Regions from separate parts of the Homo sapiens genome. Here region 2 is linked to region 1. The links come from fine-mapping of genetic effects on gene expression. A gene starts in region 1. The other region holds a variant in brackets. All regions are shown on one strand. Distances are between the middles of the regions.

What was found. PIP is the estimated chance that this variant, and not a neighbour inherited with it, causes the effect.
Region 2: its variant is the best candidate, but not a certain one, in a credible set for the expression of ALDH16A1 in whole blood (GTEx, PIP 0.56).

Annotation. Positions count from the first base shown.
Region 1 is chr19:49,452,219-49,455,122 of GRCh38, forward strand. ALDH16A1 (aldehyde dehydrogenase 16 family member A1) reads left to right here and starts at 1,007. Exons shown (of 17, transcript NM_153329.4): 1 at 1,007-1,203. The coding sequence starts at 1,114. RefSeq lists an enhancer at 1,600-2,559.
Region 2 is chr19:49,486,406-49,489,309 of GRCh38, forward strand. It overlaps RPL13A (ribosomal protein L13a), which reads left to right and starts at 1,203. Exons shown (of 8, transcript NM_012423.4): 1 at 1,203-1,239. The coding sequence starts at 1,225. RefSeq lists enhancers at 591-1,090, 1,151-1,270, 1,179-1,783. The variant G/T (reference allele first, on the strand shown) is at 1,330.

The DNA of each region.
Region 1 (2,904 bases):
CCTTAATCTCAATGTCCATCCTAAAAGGTACCCTTTTTATCTTTGAATTATCACTTCCTGCCAGCTCTAGATCCTAATACGTCCAGATCTAGACCCGCCAGGTCTAGATCTAGATCTAGACCTCTAGTCAATATAATTAGAAAAGCTGCACTTTGAGGCTGGGAGGCCGAGGTAGGAGGATCGCTTGAGCCCAGGAGTTCGAGACCAGCCTGAGCAACATAGCAAGATCCTGTCTCTACCAAAAAAAAAAAAAAAAAAAAAATTAGCCAGGCTTGATGGCACCTGCCTGTAGTCCCAGCTACTGTGCAGGCTGACGCAGGAGTAATGTTTAAACCTGAAAAGTCGAGGCGACAGTAAGCCGTGATCGGACCACTGCACTCCAGCCCTGGGCGACAGAGGGAGACCCTGTCTCAAGAAAATAAAAGGTAAAACAAAACCTGCACTTCCTGCTACTATAAAACAAGGCACTGGGAAGACGCATCAATAGGACGACCCTTTTTTTTTATTACTATTTTTTTTTTAGACACAGTCTCCCTTTGCCACCCAGGCTGGAGTGCAGTGGCGCGATCTCGGCTCACTGAAACGTACACCTTCTGGGTTCAAGTGATTCTCCCGCCTCAGCCTCTTGAGTAGCTGAGATTACAGGCGCGCACCACCACAGCTCGGCTAATGCTTGTATTTTTAGTAGAGACGGGGTTTCACCAAATTGGTCAGGCTGGTCTCGAACTCCCGACCTTAGGTGATCCGCCCGCCTCGGCCTCCCGAAGTGCTGGGATTACAGCCAAGAGCCATCGTGCCCGGCCACGCCGATCCTCATAAATCCGGAGCCCTCCTAACTATTCGCAAAGTACCCACATCGCCGTCTCCCCTTCCTCCCCGTTTTAAGCAGTGCGCATGCTCCTAAATACGCTTCCCCGTGGGGGACGTAGGCGGGGCCATCGGGTCCTAAGGAAAAAGTGTGGGCGTGGCTGCTCTCTGTATCTTGTAGCCCCACCCCATTCCCATTAGCCCCGCCCCTTTGGGCTGGAACCGGAGGTGTCGCTCTTCGGACCTCAAGGTTCCCCTTAACACAGAGCGCCCCGCAGTCTTCGCGGAAAGCGTTCGGGGTAGGCGATGGCTGCGACGCGTGCAGGGCCCCGCGCCCGCGAGATCTTCACCTCGCTGGAGTACGGACCGGTGCCGGAGAGCCACGCATGCGCACTGGTGAGAGTCTGCCCGGCCGGCGCTGCTCGCTGCGTTCCCCAGGCCTGGGCGCCCGGTTTTTCGCGGGGAGTCCCGTCATCCACTGCGGTAGCTCAGCCGCTCCGCCTCTCTTAGTCCCCGTGATTCCCGCCGCCCAATAGGATCGCGCCCTGTAGGACGCTCCCTTGAGCCTTGGCGGTGGCAGCCTTTTAGTCTGTTCCGGTCTTCCCCACTGGTTCTCTTGCCCCTTGATCCTGAACTCCTCGTAGTGTTTCCGCGGTTTTCCTGAACTCCTCTAGACGCTCTCGTGATTCCTCAGGGTCCCCTCAGAACCTGACGCCACCCACCAGACCCCTTAGGATTCCTGTGAGGCTCCAGTGACCCACAACCCCCATTGTCTTTCCACGACTCTTCAAAACATCCTATGGCTTCCATGGGCCTCCAGAGCACCCCAGACCTCCTGAGGGACTCCCTTCATCCCTTTGATTACCCAGAGACCTTCAGAACTTCCATGGAGCCCCCGTGATCCCATAGGACCCCTCAATACTCGTGGGGTTCATGTGACCTCATCGGAACTCTCAGGAGCCTAGAATACATCAGGACTTCCGGTTTGGGTTGGGTTTTTTTTTTGTTTTTTTTTTTGAGCCAGGGTCTCACTCTGTCGCCCAAACTGAAGTGCACTGGCGCTATCACACCACTGCAGCCTCAACCTCCTGGGCTCAAGCCATCCTCTCACCTCAGCCCCCCAAGTAACTGGGACCAGAGACGCGCGCCACCACTCTCAGCTAATATTTGTACTTTTTCTAGAGACAAGGTTTCAGCATGTTGGCCAGGCTGGTCTCGAACTCCTGGCCTCAAGTGATCCACCCACCTCGACTTCCCAAAGTGCTGGGATTACAGGCGTGAGCTACTGCACCCAGCCACATCAGGACTTCCTGTAATTACTTATGGCCCCTCACAATACCCTCACGGGGCTCCTATGATCTCTCTAGCTCTCAGAATGTCCCATAGGGTTCCCATGATTGTTCAGGAACCCCTGAAGTCCTCGTGAGGGTCCCATGATCCCCTGGGGGTCCTCAGAACCTCCCTAGGACTCCCATGACCCCTCAGAGGCCCCCAGAACCCTCGTGGGGTTCCTGCAAATGAGTAGGGCACCTCAAACTTTCTGTCGTTTCCCCAGGCACTCTCAGAATTCCTTCACGGGGCTCTCATGATCCCCCAGGGTCCCCCAGCACCCAGGCGAAAGGAGCTTAGGCTTCTTTGAGGGGGAGGGCAGGAGGCCAGAGCAATGATCCAAGTGGAAGGAACTGGATCAGAACCCTGGCACAGCCTAGAACTTGGGGAGGCCAAGACGGGCAGATCGCCTGAGCTCAGGAATTCGAGACCAGCCTGGGCAACATAGTGAAACCTCGTCTCTACTAAAATACAAAACATTGGGCCAGGCGTGGTGGCTCAGACTTGTAATCCCAGCACTTTGGGAGTCCTAGGTGGGCGGATCACCTGAGGTCAGGAGTTCGAGACCAGCCTGGCCAACATGGTGAAACCCCATCTCTACTAAAATACAAAAATTACCTGAGCGTGGTGGTGTTTGCCTGTAATCCTAGCTACTTGGGAGGCTGAGGTGGGAGAATTGCTTGAATCCAGGAGGCAGAGGTTGCAGTAAGCTGAGATTGCACCACTGCACTCCAGCCTGGGCAACGGAGCAAGACGCTGTCTCCAAAA
Region 2 (2,904 bases), 34 kb after region 1:
GGTGCCCCAGGTCTCCTTGGCTATGGACGAGAAGACAAGGGATTCAGCGAGCCTGGGTGCAGGATGCCATAGGCTACTATGGAGATAAAACAGAGGCAGTGTGAGGGGCAACTCACCCAGGCAGGGAGAGCAGAGAGGCTTTCCAGAGCCAAATGGCATTGCGATGGTGACAAGCCAGATTTGGAGGGGGTGGGGAGGGCATCCTGGGCAAGGGACCCAGCTGAAGCAAAGGCCGACAGTCCAGAAAGTGAGAAGTTCCTCTGAGGAACGCTCAGTGGATTGGTGCAGCCAGGCAACTAGAAGCCATTCCTTGATCCACTCTTAGAGCCCCTGGGGAAGACCACCTCCATCTGTTTTACAGATGGATAAACTGAGGCCCAGATAAGGCCAAGGGTTTCTCCAGGTCACAGTGAAGTCGACCAGACACAGGAATCCAAATCTCTAAGCCTAGAATGGGCAAGGCTCCGGGGCTCACGCCGGTAATCCCAGCACTTTGGGAGGCCGAAACGGGAGGATCGCTTGAGCCCAGGAGTTCGAGATCAGCCTGGCCAACATGTCAGACTCCCCCCGTTCCCGGGCCACAACAAAATATATATATATATATATATTAGCCAGGCATGGTGGCGCGCCCCTGTAGTCCAAGTTACTCGAGAGGCTGAGGCAGGAGGATCCCTTGAGCCCAGGAAGTGGAGGCTGCGGTGAGCCATGATCGCCCCACAGCACTCTGGTGTGGACAACACAGCGAGACCCTGTCTCACAAAATAAAGTAAGCCCGGACTGAGTGCGGAAAGGCGGGCCTGGCGGGTCTGGTCTCCCCATGCGGGCCACCAGAGGCCCTGCAGCCTTCAGTCGCTTGAAGGGGTAATGGCGCTTCCACTCACAAACATGGCGGACAGAGCGTGTGAACGAGATGAACAGCCCCTCAAAAATATGGCCGCCGAGGCTGGACGGCCGTGCCCCAGCAGCACCGCCTCCGCGCCCCACGTGATCTCTCGCCGGGCACAGCGCTGACCGCGGAGGTCCAACCGGAAGAATGTCCGGATTGGACATTCGGAAGAGGGCCCGCCTTCCCTGGGGAATCTCTGCGCACGCGCAGAACGCTTCGACCAATGAAAACACAGGAAGCCGTCCGCGCAACCGCGTTGCGTCACTTCTGCCGCCCCTGTTTCAAGGGATAAGAAACCCTGCGACAAAACCTCCTCCTTTTCCAAGCGGCTGCCGAAGATGGCGGAGGTGCAGGTATGGGCTCCGCGCGGGCCGGGGCGGCAAGGGGCCGGGTGGGATCCAGGCCGGAATGGGGTCGCACCCTCTCTGTCTTGCATGTTTTGC[G/T]GAGCTTAACATCCATAATGAAGCAAAATGGAAGTCTTTTGGGATAAGGGGAATCTGTAGGAAATGCCGCGGCTCTCTTTAGGCCTAGGGTTGGCTACAATGTGGCATTTCCTTCTCGAGGCGAGGGTGATAGAGCTTCCAGCACAGGACAGGTATTTTGCAACTAGATTTTGCTTACCTTGAACTCGGGTAGTGGGTGGGGGCCCTGGGGTAGAGTCTTGGCCGAATTGGACCCTTGTGTGTCCTCAGCGATGAGGAACACGCGGAAGTGTGGCCGGGCGGTCTCGGGGCAATGAGAAACTGAGTTTTGGCCAAAATGGAAGGTATTTTTATCCCGCTCAGTGCGCGGGCTACTTTGATTTCACGTGGAGGTGTTAATCGGGGTCCCCTGCAGCTCCGGTTCTTTTAATTCTCAATGCCTTTCTGCGGGGGGTCGAGAGCTGTTGGCTGCGGGGCACTCTGGAATGAACTCGTTTTCCGTCGTTTTGGGGATTGGCGATTGTCCTGAGGCGTGTTACTGGAAGTCGAGAGCTGTGATGAATGGTTCCACAAGGATGGGACATCTTTTGGGCCTGACACCTGGGGGCCCTTTCCCTGGCTCCTGGTGTAGCTACTTAAGTATAAAGGAGGGATTGGCCCTGGAAAGGTTTCTTTGTGAGTAGTCTGTTGTTGGGGCGGGTGACATTTCAGAGCCAGGCCGATCTAGGCAAGTTGTGTTCACCAAGCATGTGTCTTTGTGCCTAGCACAGTTCGCAATGTTTTGCGTAGTTCAGTTAACCATATTCCTGAGGCAGTTACTGGTATCCTTGTTTTACAGAGGAGGAAATTAAATTGGAATTGGTGATTTTGGGCCAAGGTCACGACTTCAGGAAGTCTGTCTGGATTTTAGAGTCTTTGTACCAACGCTTACAAAGCATGTGTAACAACCAGTGTGTGCTTCATGCTTTTGCATTAAAACAATGAGGATTTCTACTTTTAGTGTTTTTTCTGAGACGGAGTCTCGCTGTGACACCCAGGCTGGAGTGCAATGGTGCGATCTTGGCTCATTGCAACCTCTGCTTCCCAAGTTCAAGTGATTCTCCTGCCTCAGCTTCCCGAGTACCTGGGACTGCAGGTGCCTGCCACGACGCTTGGCTAATTTTTGTGTTTTTAGTAGAGACAGGGTTTCACCATATTGGCCAGGATGGTCTCGAACTCCTGACCTCAACTGATCTGCCCACCTAGGCCTCTCAAAGTGCTGGGATTACAGGCGTGAGCCCCTGTGCCCGGCCAGGATTTCTACTCCGGAGGAAGCTGAGGTTCGGTGCCTGAGCAGTTTACCGGGGAAAGCAGAGTGCTCTATAGCAGAGCTAGCATGGGCTTTTGACTACTCTGCCTAATCTCATCCCACCTGAAATTCGGTTTTCTTCCAAATTAAATTTGTGGTAGAAACATCCTATACATTAGAAGAGAATTAGATTGTGTTAACATCCTACAATTGATTGGCCACAGTGGCTCAAGCCTGTAATCCGAGCATTTTGGAAGGCCGAGGCACACGGTTCACTTGAAGCGAGGAGTACAAGAGCAGCCTAGGCA